Homo sapiens: one gene and its partner. The protein of the gene in region 2 interacts with the protein of the main gene of each other region in a pairwise test. Each region holds a gene or a part of one and is shown on either strand. Other genes may lie near its edges.

Region 1 (7,000 bases), about 53 Mb from region 2:
ATCACATGAAGAGAGAGAGAAAATGTTAGTACAGAAGTAAAAGAATAAACTTTAGTTATAGATGGGACTAAAGAAAGAGAAAATAGGAGACAGCACAGAACCACTTATGAAACACAACTGACCTGAGTTCTGTTAAAAGCCACACGTGCAAATACCGCCTGGGAGATTCCTGCTCGTTTCAGTTCATCGCGTACCCACTGGTAGATTTCGGAAGACACCTCTGTGTTGGTCGAAACCTGTTGCTCCAAAGGCTTATTCATAGATCTACTGACAGGGGGAGGGTGGTTCAAGTATTGTTGGTTTAAGGACTGCTGGGCTAAAAGTCTATTCACTGCATACTGCTGGTTCAGCAGCTGAGCCATCACCAGCTGCTGGTTGACCAATTGAGGACTGATAGGTGTTGATACGAGCCCAGGGTGCAGGTTTGGAAGAGGTGTCCGGACAGAGGGCTGGCTGCCATGGGAGAGCTGCGCAGGGGATGGAGGCTGCTCGGCTGTGTTCCCTGGAACTGGTTGCTGGCCAAAATTGACATGATTGGCGCCTTGCTGGGATAGCTCAGAAAGACTATCCATTTCAACTAAAGTGGACAAAGAGTAAAATCACATTCAGCCAACAATGATTGGCATTGATAAAGATTTCTAACCATTTCCTAAATTAAAAAAGGGTAGGCACAGGGCACACCCCAAATCCAATAAAACCAAGAAAATTTCAAGTTGCAACTTACCAGGCTGTGTTTTTGCTCTCCTTTCCTGAACAATTCTACAAACTTTGGAAATGGGACAGCATTCCTAATCTTATTTTTAAAAAGTGGTTTAGATTTAAGGCATAAAATCAATTATTACCCAAACTCTTTCCAACTAGTTGTTCACTCTCACTTATTACCCCAAGAAGGCTTCTAAGCAACAATTTTTAAAAATGGCTTCTAAAAGAATGTCATTTGCTTAATGACAACTACAAACAGTGAGCTGAGCTGAGAAAATAAGCTTATAATAAGCAACTAAAAAAATTTACAAATATATTCTCATGATATTCATTAACTTTAGTACTCTAGGAAAAAGGTGTAAAAGAAAAAATATGACATAAAAAGTCACCTACTTTCAATTTTTACCCAGCAGTGAATAGAAGTAGTTAATGTAATAAATAAAAATGGGCATAATAATAAGTGTATATTGAACACTTGCTGAATATCTTATATGCCTTGCTTCATTTTAATTCTAACCATCATGGGCAGTAGGTATATCTGGAAATACTTTTTAGAATAAAGCAAGTGATTTATTGTATATCAAGCCAGCATACCCAGTGTTGCTAAGATCCAAATGTTTTTTCTTCAGGAAGCTATGGCCATCACCAGATGCTAAAGACAATCTTGCAGGGAATCGTTCTGGTACAATGGTGAGGCTGTCATGATTTTGCAATTTATTCCCACCTACCCAGGATGAATGCTTCTTCCTTGGCTAGGTTCCTCATATGGATTGGCTGAGCATCATCTCTAAGTATGTAAATGCTTTTCTGTACGAAGAGGAGACTGGTTCGATGCTCTTGGCTGGAAGGGCTGAGCATGAAGCTGTACATAAACAGGACTTTCCAAATTGTACACAGACTTCCCACATGTAGACTCTAGTTTGATTTTAATCATCAATTCTCTTTTCATTAAATATGCAGGTTTTACATTTAGAGGAACTTTATCATAGCGCTATAGCTCCTGATATACGCAAAATATAACTAAGAATTGGGGAAGAAATCTTCAATTTCTACCAGTGATATCAGCCCAAGTGGGCCATTCACAGAGAACAGTAATTCAAGCAATTATTCCAAAAATGATGCATTGTCTTCATTACAGCCTTAAGCTATAAAAGGCAAAGAATCCATTTTGGTAGATGGATGGTTTTTCTTCAAATATTAAGAGCTAAAACTTGCTCAAAATTTGGATTAATTTTTCTTAAAAAATTAAAAAAAAATTAAATGAATGTAAAGAAATAAATAGAAATAGATTTAAAACAGGACATAATGCCCATTCCTATATTATTTTAAAATATATGTTTTGGAGGGTAAAAGTAGGTGAAAGAGAACAGTAATAAAAATTAAAACATTAACCTTAATCACAGTGTTTGCTTTTGTGAACATTAACAAACTCAACAGAGAGAAAATGCCATCATCTAAATGCTTAGGTACCATACACAACTTTTATCTATCATTTTACACTGCAGATAATTTTAGTGTACTTCTTGCATAACAAATATTCACCTAAAGTTATGTGTTAAGATAGAATGCTACCTTGGAATTAAAAGTTCAGAAATGATGCAATAATTGTTCTGGTATGGATGGTAAAGCAATGTGCTTATCAAAGTGCCCATCCATGGCGGCTGGGGGTTAGAGCTATAAAAATCACTTGATCTCTACTGTGGAAACTATAAATAGTTTAATTTAAGAAGTTTAATTTCCTTTAAAATTGGGTGTAAAAATAGGCACTTTCTCATTCAACCAGACAAAAACAAAAAACCTAAAAGCAAGACTTATCAGAGAAAGAAATCACAGCTAATATTAGTTATTCAAGGCCTGGTTAGGTCTTCACTGAGTTGTTAAAAAATGACAGCTCCCCTCCCAACGCCTCAATTTCCTGCATGTCTGACAACCAAGTCAGTTTGGCTGATTTAAACACAAACATTTATTGAATTTAATTATCTCATTATACTCATACCCACTTCCCACCCCCAAAGAAACATTCTAAATTGATCTCTAATTGGGCAATCAAAAGACCTGGCTTTAGATGTGACTTTGATAAACCCCCAAATGACACGTAATGGTATGTAGCCACTGCTGCAATGTTTTTTTTGCTTACCCATCATATCTTTTGTCTTCTTGAAATGTTTGTACCACCTTCCAAATTCTTGACATTTTGCTGCTGAGACATTTGCATAGTAAGTACTGTTCACAATGGAAGAAATCATACTCTGCATGAAGAAGGGGGGAGAATATTTGTAATACACAGCAGCACAAGATGGAACACAGAAATGATCTCAATTGTGGCAACTGTATTTTTTTAATCAACTGAGTACCAATACATTTTGGTTTCACACTTTAGCCTAAAGCTTCGACTTCTTAATATTCATTAAGTAGATCATCAAATGCTTATTTAAGTAGAAAGCAACAGCCCACTGAGACCAGTATAAAGCTATCAAACCCACAGACTTTGCTCTAGCATTCATTGAATCTCCATCAATGCCATCTATTACTAGGCTGTCAAACTCACTGGTCCCAATAAATCCAAATACATGAAGATGACTTTATAATTGTGACTCATAAATATACGAGACTTCGCGATTTTTTGACTGGACTCTACATCTTTTCTACTCAAAGTATAGACCAGGGACCAGCAATATGGGCATCACTTGGAAGCTTGTTAGAAATGCAGAATCTTGGGCCCTACCCCAGACCAGTGCACTTAGCAGCTGAATTTTACCAAGATCCCAGGGGATTCACATGTATATTAAAATTTGAGAAACAGAACTTGCACTTTCCACTCTATTATTTGGATTTAAAGTGGACGCGCATTAACACTGATCAAAGGTTAACTGACCGTATTTGAGAAGAAACAAACTATTCACAGAGATCCTCTATCAAGAGAAAAACATTCTGCAATCTTATTACTGGCTTCATCAATAGTAAAGCTTAAGTTTTGAATTTCAAACCGATCATAAAAATTTTAAATTTATACATTTCATGCTTCTAAATTTCTCAAGGATACCACAAAAAGATGACCTATCGTGACTTATCTTTATCCTGCTTTTAATAAATGCCCGGAAAACTGTCAGCCCTTTAACATACAAAAATGAAGAAAAACATGATTTTAATGAATCACTAGGAGGGTTTCTTTTTTTAAATCATTTTCAATCTTCCCAGCAAATTTTGGTTACGGTAATTTCAATGACTAAATTCATGGTCCATATTAACCTGTTACCCATATTCTCTAGTAACAGCTAACTTAATTTCCTACCGAGTCTTAGGAGTAAGATTTTGTAGCACCAATCTATCCCTCACCCCTATGTGCAGAAACATGAGAACTCACATTTCAGACATCAGTTGGTCTATGGTGAAATAATTTATAGAAGGCAGCATTGTTCAGGAGGCAGTGAACAACCAGAAAAGCCAGTTTGGGGACAAAAGTATTTTTATATAATTATCTTCTTTAAGTTACCTCTAATGTAAAGCTCTTTCAGTTATTATTCATTCTCCTGACATCCACTATCAGTGTTAATTCTGTAGCATGCACACATTTCTGGAATATGTAAATTTGGGGGATCTCTAAAGAACTTCCAGTGAAGGATAAGCTGGAGTCGCATTATTTATGTAAAACACAGCTATCTTTCCTAAGAGGCACTGTGATATCTTTTTTTTTGACACTCTCTATAGTCATTTTCACATTTTATATCTCTAAAAAGACATTCTTAATGTGTTCATGATGCTCTGCCATTAATCCAATAGCTTGCAATTTCACTAAGAGCCTCCCACAGTCCACAGTGTAAAAAGACACTTAGCAAAGTTGCCAAAACCAGAGCCAGAAGATTACCTGATCTGTCAGCTTCAATCTCACTTACTCTCTTGTAATAAGGGATCAATAAAGTCAGACACTAATAAAAACTATTGAGATCGCTGATGGATAATGGTGATTCTTCTGCAAATGGATGACAGTTGATGTTCTTCCACTCTGGTCCAATTTTTAAAAAAATTATTACTCTTTATCTAGACATTCTGGCAGTTCCTTAAATGTTAATAATACACATGAGTTCTAGATGTGGTTTATGTCTTACTTTTTAGAAGTGTATGGAATATCCAAATTTTGCCGAGGTTTTTGACAAACATCCAGTCTACTCCAGTTTGCCAACAGTTCTATATATGAAATTTGCTCTTTGCTGCACACCTACTATATGCCTGGCTGGTAGTAAGGATGCAAAGATGGCAGACAGCCTCTGCCTACAAAGATGAGGCACCTGTCATCCAAAGATGGCGGACAGCCTCTGCCTACAAGAAGTTTACTATCTATTAAGAACACAGATATGTAAATAGATCATCTCAATTTAATGTGATTTGGTATATCAACAGTGGAAAATGTATAGGGGACGACGGAAGGAAGAATCATCCATGGTGTGTGTGAAAAAATGTCTGAAATAGTTTTATAAAACTAGAACCTATATGTAATAGTGCTATACAGTTTATTATTATTCGTACATGGAAAATAATATCCATATGTGCATCATTGTCAAAGCTTCCCCCTACCCTACTTAACCCTAAATTGGTAGGTTCTGGGCTTAAGTGCTTTTCTGTCACATGGTGTATGCTTAGGAAACTCTGATTAATGTAAATAATAGCCTAAGCAAGACTTAAATCAAAAGGCTAATCCGTAACTTATAATGCATGACAAAGCAACTTTTTGGATTCCCTATCTTTTTGTGCTTTTGGGTGACTGGGAAATATTTCCTAATTCAGGTAACTTGGAGTCATGTCTATTTTTATTGGACAATATGCAATAATCTGTCCAATTAGATTGCTCCTATAGCCACTTCATGAGGTGTATGTGTGTGGGCGTGGGCGTGTGTGTGTGTTTCAGGTGGTAAAATTCCTACTAAAGGCTTAGGCATAGCATTGGAGTAGACCAGCCAGCCGGTTTCAATGGCAGGAAAGAGACTGCAGAATTTTGTGGTGCACATGGCATTTGAAAAATCATATACAGTAGTGTAATCTTAAATTTAGAATATCAGGAAAAAAACACGTAATGTTTTGATAACACAAATAAAAAAGTCATGATTGGTAAAATTTTCCTAGGTGGTGGGATGTACAGATAGTAGGCCAAGTTCCATGTTAGAAAGGCTTGGGATTCTTGTGTCACTTAAAAGGAGGTACTGGTTTAAAAAGATTGCACTAAGCTGTGAGTTCACGTAGGTCTGGGGCACCATATTATTTTCTAGCTCAATGCCTGGCATGCATTAATATAAACACTAAATGTTCATCTGACAAAACAGAATAGAAATAAACATATATTCAAGTGAGGATGTGTCACACACTGGTAGTATGACCTTGGGTCAAATAGTTGACCATTCCATCACAATTTCCTATGCTAAATGGGAATGATAATAGCATACACCTCATGGAGTTGTTCTGAGAATCCATCAATTCAGGCATTTTTAAAATTCATTTAGCATATACTTAAATTCTACTATGTGCCAAGCACTGGGCAAGTCACTAGGAAAATAATGACTTGAAGAGACATATTATCTGCCCTTGGACAGGAAATAATAGATGTGATACAATTAGCACAGAGCCTGTAACATATTACATATAGACTGAAGAGATATTAATTACTATGACAATCCTTTGCCTCCTCCTCATCACTGGGCTTTCATTATATGATCACATTTCATATCAGGTGACTATGTTTTGAGTATCAGATAAAATTTTCAAATGATATACAGTATTTTGAGTCTTTTTAATGTAGAATGAAGTATACTGATTAAATTATTAAGTTACAAGTTGGTACAAGGAATAGTAAAGGAAAACACCACGGGGAAATATTTCTTTCCTTCTCATACTCCAATTTGGTGGTGTTTTCTGAAGCTGGCCTATATCTGGTAGAAAGCATCAAGAAGGCACACCACTCCTCTGGCTTGGATGCACGGCCCATGCCCTCTCCCATCTCTAGCTAACAGCTGCTCATCCTTCAGGATACAGCCTGGGCATCCTTGCTTCCATGAGGCCTTTCCTAACTTCCCAAACCTCCTGCAGCAGAGCACTCATCCTGCTGTTTATTTTGCACTGGACTGTGGGCCTTAGGTCTCATCTGAATATATCCTGGACTCATCAGAGGGCTGGACACAGACTAGGTGATCAATAAAAAGGGTCACTGAAACAAGCCACCAGAAATCCTCTTCCCCTTTTTTCCCCTTAAAGGTCAAACATAATAGCAGCTTAACTATGACACGAATCTTTCAAATCCATCGCTTTGGCT
Region 2 (7,167 bases):
TGATGGAGCCCATAAAAGAAAACTGGGGACTGAACGATTTTCTATTCTAATAGACCATTTTCTCCAAAATTATTTAAAGTTGCTTATGGACATAGATGTTATCTGAAGATGCCCCACCCCTCCTTCCCAAGGCTCAATCAACTAGCTTCTTTCCAAATAATTAAATGGGGCAAACTTTCTATTAGAAAATATCTACCATACATCACTAAAAAAAGGTCTGTCATTGATTCCCTAATGAAATATCAGTTAATTACTTAACCTTTCTTAATGAAATGATTAACATTTCAACAAACAAGGCGGAATGACTTCGCATCAAGCTGTAGATTACCAGTGACAGTGGTAACTATGTGTCCTCTACCATTGCGCCGTCTATTCTTTCAATCAGCTCCATGTTTCATCTTTTATAGAAATTCTTTATGCAGTAGTAGAGACACTCTACTTTTAAAATTTGGCCCATAAGAGTTTTTTTTAAGTGCCTCAGGGTCAGAACAGAAATTTTAAAAGTTTTTATTAGACGAATATCCCCAATGCTACCTAAACCTACAGAAAAGCAAACTGTGAAGTTCTAAACGTAAAAACAATTGCCAACTTTTTGGCAGCTATTAAAATAAAGCCACACCTAAAGCCAAAATGGAAATTAAAAATTAGGTGTGGGCATTATGGACACATTATTACCGGGTAACTTCAAAAGCCACATTATTAATACAGATGAAAAAATGTCTCAACAACTTTTATTTAAATAACTCTTTTGATCTTAGTGGTTAGATCTTTAGTTGAAGCCCTGAATATTTAAATAAGCCTCCTTAACATTTTATCTTCCTTTATTTCATAATCTTGTAGGATGCCTTCTTCTTAGGATTCTGGTTTCTTTATTTGTGTGGCATCGTTGGCTAGGCTATTTCCATCAATATTCGTGCATGCCCCATCACATACGATAGAGAATTTCCCAAGATGCTTGGGAAAATCAAAATACTTCTGCCAGCAGGGTTAATCCAAAGAGCAAACAGTTACAATTTTAAAATTAAGATGGAATACTCAGAAAAAAAAATTCTAGAGAGTCATCTGACACTAATTGGTAGCTACAGCATGACAACACCCATTGGGAAACATGGATGCAGGCAAGACAAAATTCAAAAGGAAATTATCTGATATTGACATTTGGTGAAAACCACCGATGTTCCAGGTTGTTCCTATCACGTTATTGAACTGTGAGGCTCTTGTTCTGCCTCTGTTTCTCTAAGTCTCCAAGGTTTCTTTTTGTGCCCTCCTGAAAAAGGAGCTCCGTTTTCTTCTCTTAGGTTTCACAATGGCCAACCAATTCAATTAAACTCTTAAGAAGGGTTGCAGGCTTTCCTCCAACTCTGATAATTGACAGGTCCAGTTTTCCCACTTTGGTGGGCATCAGGACCATGTGGGATGCGATTTAAAAACACAGATGCTGGCCCCACCCCAGATACGGCACATCCAGGAGTCGTGCAACTGTGTCTGTGTTGGGAACAACAGCTCTGCTGTGATTCCAATACTCGTGCTTGGTTAAAAACCACCGTTTTTCATTCGTAATAAAAATCCAAATACATTAAAAACAACACAGGATGGGCCTCAAGGTAAAATCAAAGAAATCATCAGTAAAATCCAAGTGAAGATAGAGATTTCAGTTCCACACATCTGAAAGAATAAATCACTTGATTCACAGGTCTCTAGCATGCATCAGAATTATCAAGGGAAGTTTGTTATAAATGTACGTTACCATGTCAATCAGCAAAAATTCTGACTCAAGGATCTGTATTTTAATAACCTACACACACACACATACACACACACACACACAGATACAGAGGTAGGTGAGCGAGGACCTCACTTTGAACCAGGCTGAATTAGGACCAACTGCAACCTCCCTTCACTTCAGACATGAGCATTCACTTCCATCTCTGTGCTCACCCCCAGGAGGGGAAGCCACCAGTGCCACTGGTCATCAGGAGGTAGGCACCAGGGCAAAAGAAACTCAAGCAAAACTCACATCACACCCTCCCCCAACAAAAGCTGCGGTCACTGTCCTGAGAGCACCAAGAATATCTTTTAAAAATGTGAGTAATAACAAAGCCCTGTATCATTGGATCCCTAAGCTCAAAGAACATATGTTAAAATATTACCCCTAATTCAAAAGCAGGGAACCTGGAGCAGAGAAAGTCACATTATGACTCAATTGCACAGCTGGGAGGGAGAAAGGACACCTCGGAAATTCAGTTTGATGCTAGAAATATTCTTCAGTGTCCTAGTAAACAAAGTGAATCACAAAATTAGCTAAAATCAGAGCATCTGGTAAAATGTGGATGTCCACCTGACTTACAAGTAATAAATAAATATATGTCCAAACATAAAACTCAGAGAAAATGTTTGTCCTAAGCAAATCTATTCTATTGAACATAAACAAGGCCCAATAATCCCACATTCAGATCCATTTTTCCCTCAGTAAATTGTCCTATAACATGCTAGCCTCTGATATCTTCAAACTGTTGAAATCAAACAGAATGACATGGGCTTTCTATTCAATGATCCCATTTCAGCTATTTATCTGAATTAGCAGCAGTTTGAGGAAATACACTCATCACAACATGATTCTGAGTATAGAGAAGTAAATAGTAAACAGAACACTGGAACACAACTGTGTATGTATTCATATTCCTTTTTAAAAAAAAAACTATTTTATTAAAAATACAATTTGGAAGGAAAGTGCAATTAGCTTTGCACAGGCACTGCTGAGATGTTCCCGAACACAGCAGACATATGTAAATATTTCGTGATATCAGTTCCATTTGAGTAGACCTGTCAAGATATTTACAGGGCTTGACAGTACTTCTGTCTTTAATTAAATTTTTGCCCAGATACTTTAATATAATTTAAATAGATTATTAGTTGTCAGAATCGAATATAAATTTTGTTTACGATTTAGTTACTTTAAGTACTCAGACTGAAGGAACTAATTTAACCCTACAACTGAGCAGCTTTAAGCATCAAGGCCAAACCACTAGAAAGCTCCCACTGCCCTTTGCACTCTACCAATAACCTTAAATTATTACAACTGAATTGTAAATTTCATGGCACTAAACTGAGCCCCCCTCCCCTCCTTTTGAAATAAAACAGCTTGGGGAGGGTCATGAGGAAACACCCATTTACACCTGTTCAGGTACTAGGTAGGTTCTCCCTTTCAGGCACTCGTTCTCACAGCGGCTGGCTAGATAGGAAACATTTTTTTCTCACTCTAAGTCCCATAAAATAACTACCGAACAAACACCTGTTGTGTACAAGGCAGGGCATGTATTAAAGACTGGCATCAGGGCATTGCAAAAAGAAAAACAAGCCTTGCAGAGACATCCACAAGCCAATCTGGTCAATAGATTTCACGACTGGGTAAAACAACAGTGCGTGCGAAGAACACAGCTTCTGGCACAACCTTCTTGTGAATGGCAGCTGACTTCTAAACAAGGATTGAAAAATGCCTTAGCACAAACTGACTGTAATTAATAAGAATAATTTATTAAAGAAACAAAGAACACTGTCTAATTGTCTTTCCTGACTGCCATGCACTTTCCCCCATTGTACTTCCTCTTTGCAGAATACCAGCCTCGTAGCCCTAACTGTAAGAACATTATCTATGGGATGCAAAACCAAAACACTTCTAGAAATCAAATATTCCTTACAACATTTATTTTTAGGTTAGCGACACAAGCCAAATCTGCTTAATTTCCATTAAGCACATGGTCACATGCTCATTGAAATAAACTACAAACGTCCCAGGAAAAAAAAAAAAGGAAAAAAACTATCATGCAGAAGATACCCCAAATTTCGCCAGGTTTGCCCGTTTCAGGAACTTGCCTCATCTCAAGGCCTGCTGGCATTCCAGCTTTTGGAGCCTTTATCCTTAATTCATCCAAGTACCGGAGAAGAGAAATATGTTGAAAAATCAGTTTAAGATGGTTCCTTGGATAGCATATGTATAGCAAAGTGGCCTGCAGAGTAGAGTAACAAATGACAAGAAAGATCATTAAAAAAATGCATGGGCCCAAGTGCAAACCTACTTGGCTTGCTGGCTTGTCTCACAAACTCAATGTTTGATCACCTGGTGGGACTAACTACCATCAACTTAAAAAAAAAAAATCCCCTGCAAATAGTAAAAGTATACATTGGCTCAGGTATAAAGTTCACCTGTCTATTCAGCAGATGCCTTTCTTGAGGTTATTTTCTTTAGAAAACAAACCCCTACCTGCTTGAGAGGTTTATATACTCTAGATTCAAAAAAACACATTTAAAAAGAAAAAAAGAAGGCCAATATTGCTGGTATAGCAAAAATGGCATTTACTATGACTGAAATCTATAAAAGAAGTGTGACATCTGACAGGATAAGGAAGAAAGGAAAAGCCCTTAGCAAAAAGAAAAAAAAAATTAAAAACAAAAATACCACCTGTGTAAATCTAGCCATGCTCTGGAAACCCTTTCTCGGTCGTGGAGAAGAAACAGCTCATGCTGAATGCCTTGAAGTTGCAATTAAATTGTAGTAATTTAAGATTATCGGGAGAGCAAAGGGCAGTAGGAGCTCTTCAGAGGGTTTCCCTCCCCACTTAATGCTCTTCAGTCACGGGTTAAATGAGTTTCTTTAATGTAAGTACCTTAAAGTAACAGAATCATAAACAAAATTTATACTATGTTCTGACAGCCTGCAATCTACTTCGGTTTTATTAACGTATACCTAAAATTATTTTTAAAGGACAAAATTCTTGCTATACCCTGTAAATATTCTTGGCATTCCCACTGAAATGTGATAGGTACTGTAACACCTAACCTTGTCTAAATATACATACTTTTTGAGATGTGGAATCTTACAAGATAGTGTTTCAAAACTGAGTTTGAGTCATAAGTAAAACATGAAAATCAAATAAATATGCACAATAAGATTGGCTGCAAAGAGGAAGCTGGGTTCAAAAGAAGTTGTCACATCTGCTATATTCCTTCTCTTTCTTAATTTTGGCACTGGACCCCCTGCAATATAAATATATTTGAAAAATATCACAATTCTTCTGTTAATTTAAACAACTGCTGAAAACAGACATACCCTTCAACAGAGCCTAAGATGCAAATTTACAAGGCCAGGGGTATAGTCTTTAAAAAGGCAAAGAAAAACTCAGTAACAGAAAACCATGCCTAGGCTCAATATTAACTCAGTTAACTTTTGCTATTATAAGTATAAATGGTTTAACTAGAAAATATTTATAGCGTTTTCAAAACATTACATATTGCAGAAAATTGCCTAATAGCATCCATGTGTATGTTTAACCCACATTGCTTAATTATACAATAAAGGTATATCTAGTAAAAACTACAGACTTTGAAACATGTTGTGCACCATGGTTATGAAACTCTGGCTTACAAAAAATATATAAACTGCTTACTATGTGACCGACACTTGTTAATTAAAAATATAATCCTTAAATGACAATTATTTTTATTCTTCTGTATGTGTTTACTTATCCTGTTTCCTACTTTGTTCTACTTAATTTAAAATAACATTTAATTTGGGGATAGTTTATCCCAGAAAAAAAAAAGTGTTACACAGTTTATACTCCACGATTTAAATATAAACACAAAATCTTAGACATCTCCAGCAATATAAACCCCTTATCTGAGACAGTTAATTTGAATAGTTGATGTTTCTTTCATTATACTTTGATAAACCTGTGAAAACAAAATGCTACAGTAATTACTGTTACTACTCCCTTTAAAAATGTAAAGTAGTTAAATTTTCCTAGACAACAAGCAAGGACAAGTTACAGAGAACTTGAATAAAAGTAGCAACGTGGTCATGTTGAATGTCAATCTAAAAAAAGAGGTTGTCTAATCTGGAGACTGCTCTCTCTCGCCTTTTTAAATTCCAAGAGTGGGCTGACACAAAACTTCATCACCAGAGATTTTTTTTTTCTTTTTTTTCTTTTTTCTTTTTTTTTTTTTTTTTGAGCTTCACATCAGATTTAAACTCTCACATACAAAACCTTGGCTTCCCTGACAAGGCAGATCTTCTAAACTCAATGTGAGAAAACGTTATCTAACTCTAGTGTAGGAGTCTAATGTTGGTAAAAAGAATTCCATTGCACAGTTCTTGGTAGCAAGACAGTCTCTGGACGACTTAATATTCCTTTAATACATTTTTGGGTAGCATTCTCCTCATAAAGAAGGATACATTAAAAAAAATAACTTGTTTCGCGACTCGGCATCCATAAGGAACTCAAATGCTGCCCAGAGAGGGGCTGAGTATTTCCTTCCAAGTGAGCCTTCGCTTGCACAACAAAGATTAGCATCTGCAATGGTCCATTTCTGCATAAGTGAACATATAGCCTTGCTGCTTGATCGAATAGTCCAGGGTTCTCCGTGTAGCAGCTCCTGACAACCACCCAGCAGCAGTTCTGTTTGATCTCTCCTGCTTCCTTAATTTGGGTTGTCAAGGTTCAGCAGTTGGAGGCTGTTTACTTTACTTTTCCAAAAAAAAAAAAAAAGTGATTTTTTTTTTCTCCCTCTCTCTCATACAATGACTAATCCAAAGTCTAAGGGGGGTGGGGGATGCAGCCAGTGGCAAGATGTTAAACCTTTTTTTTTCCCTTTGCAGTGAGATTTTAGCTGACACCTTTTGAATGGTAACTAGTTGAGTTCCTTTTTTATATTTTTCTTGCTCTTTAATTGTGAGACGTTTCAAATAGAAAGACAGAGGGGGGAAAAAAACAGTCCAAATTTCTGAAACTGTGAGCTGAGTTTTCTTTTCCTGGACCCAAAGGGATGGGTATTTCCACTTTGAGAATCAAAACTCCAGTGGAATTCTAAAAAAGATTTGATACATTTCTCTCTGGAACAGAAAAATAGCAGGAACTCCTCTTTCTCAATTATGTAGGCTATCCCTGGGTAGAAAACACCTGAAGTCTTACTATTTCTTTAAAAATTCTAGTTTACACATCTCCCTCCAAATTGATTCTTGCTGTGGAAAACGGGGGTGGGGGAAAGGGGATGGAATGGAAAAATTTTGCAGCGATTCTTCAATATATTTTCAGTAGCAGAAAAATTCCTTTAAATATCCTTGAGGTCTTCTCAACTCAGCTATTGTCCAAGCCCTAAACCCTTAAGTCTACG

What was found. Proteins that work in one complex are often made in the same cells at the same time.
Region 1: the proteins of FOXP1 (region 2) and SATB1 come close enough for resonance energy transfer, tested with the Homo sapiens proteins (one study listed by BioGRID).

Annotation. Positions count from the first base shown.
Region 1 is NC_000003.12:18,394,340-18,401,339, forward strand, and holds part of SATB1 (DNA-binding protein SATB1), read right to left. Parts: intron 2,952-7,000; coding exon 2,840-2,951; intron 578-2,839; coding exon 123-577; intron 1-122. UniProt on the Homo sapiens protein: Crucial silencing factor contributing to the initiation of X inactivation mediated by Xist RNA that occurs during embryogenesis and in lymphoma.
Region 2 is NC_000003.12:71,573,646-71,580,812, forward strand, and holds part of FOXP1 (forkhead box protein P1), read right to left. Parts: intron 1-7,167. UniProt on the Homo sapiens protein: Transcriptional repressor. Can act with CTBP1 to synergistically repress transcription but CTPBP1 is not essential. Plays an important role in the specification and differentiation of lung epithelium.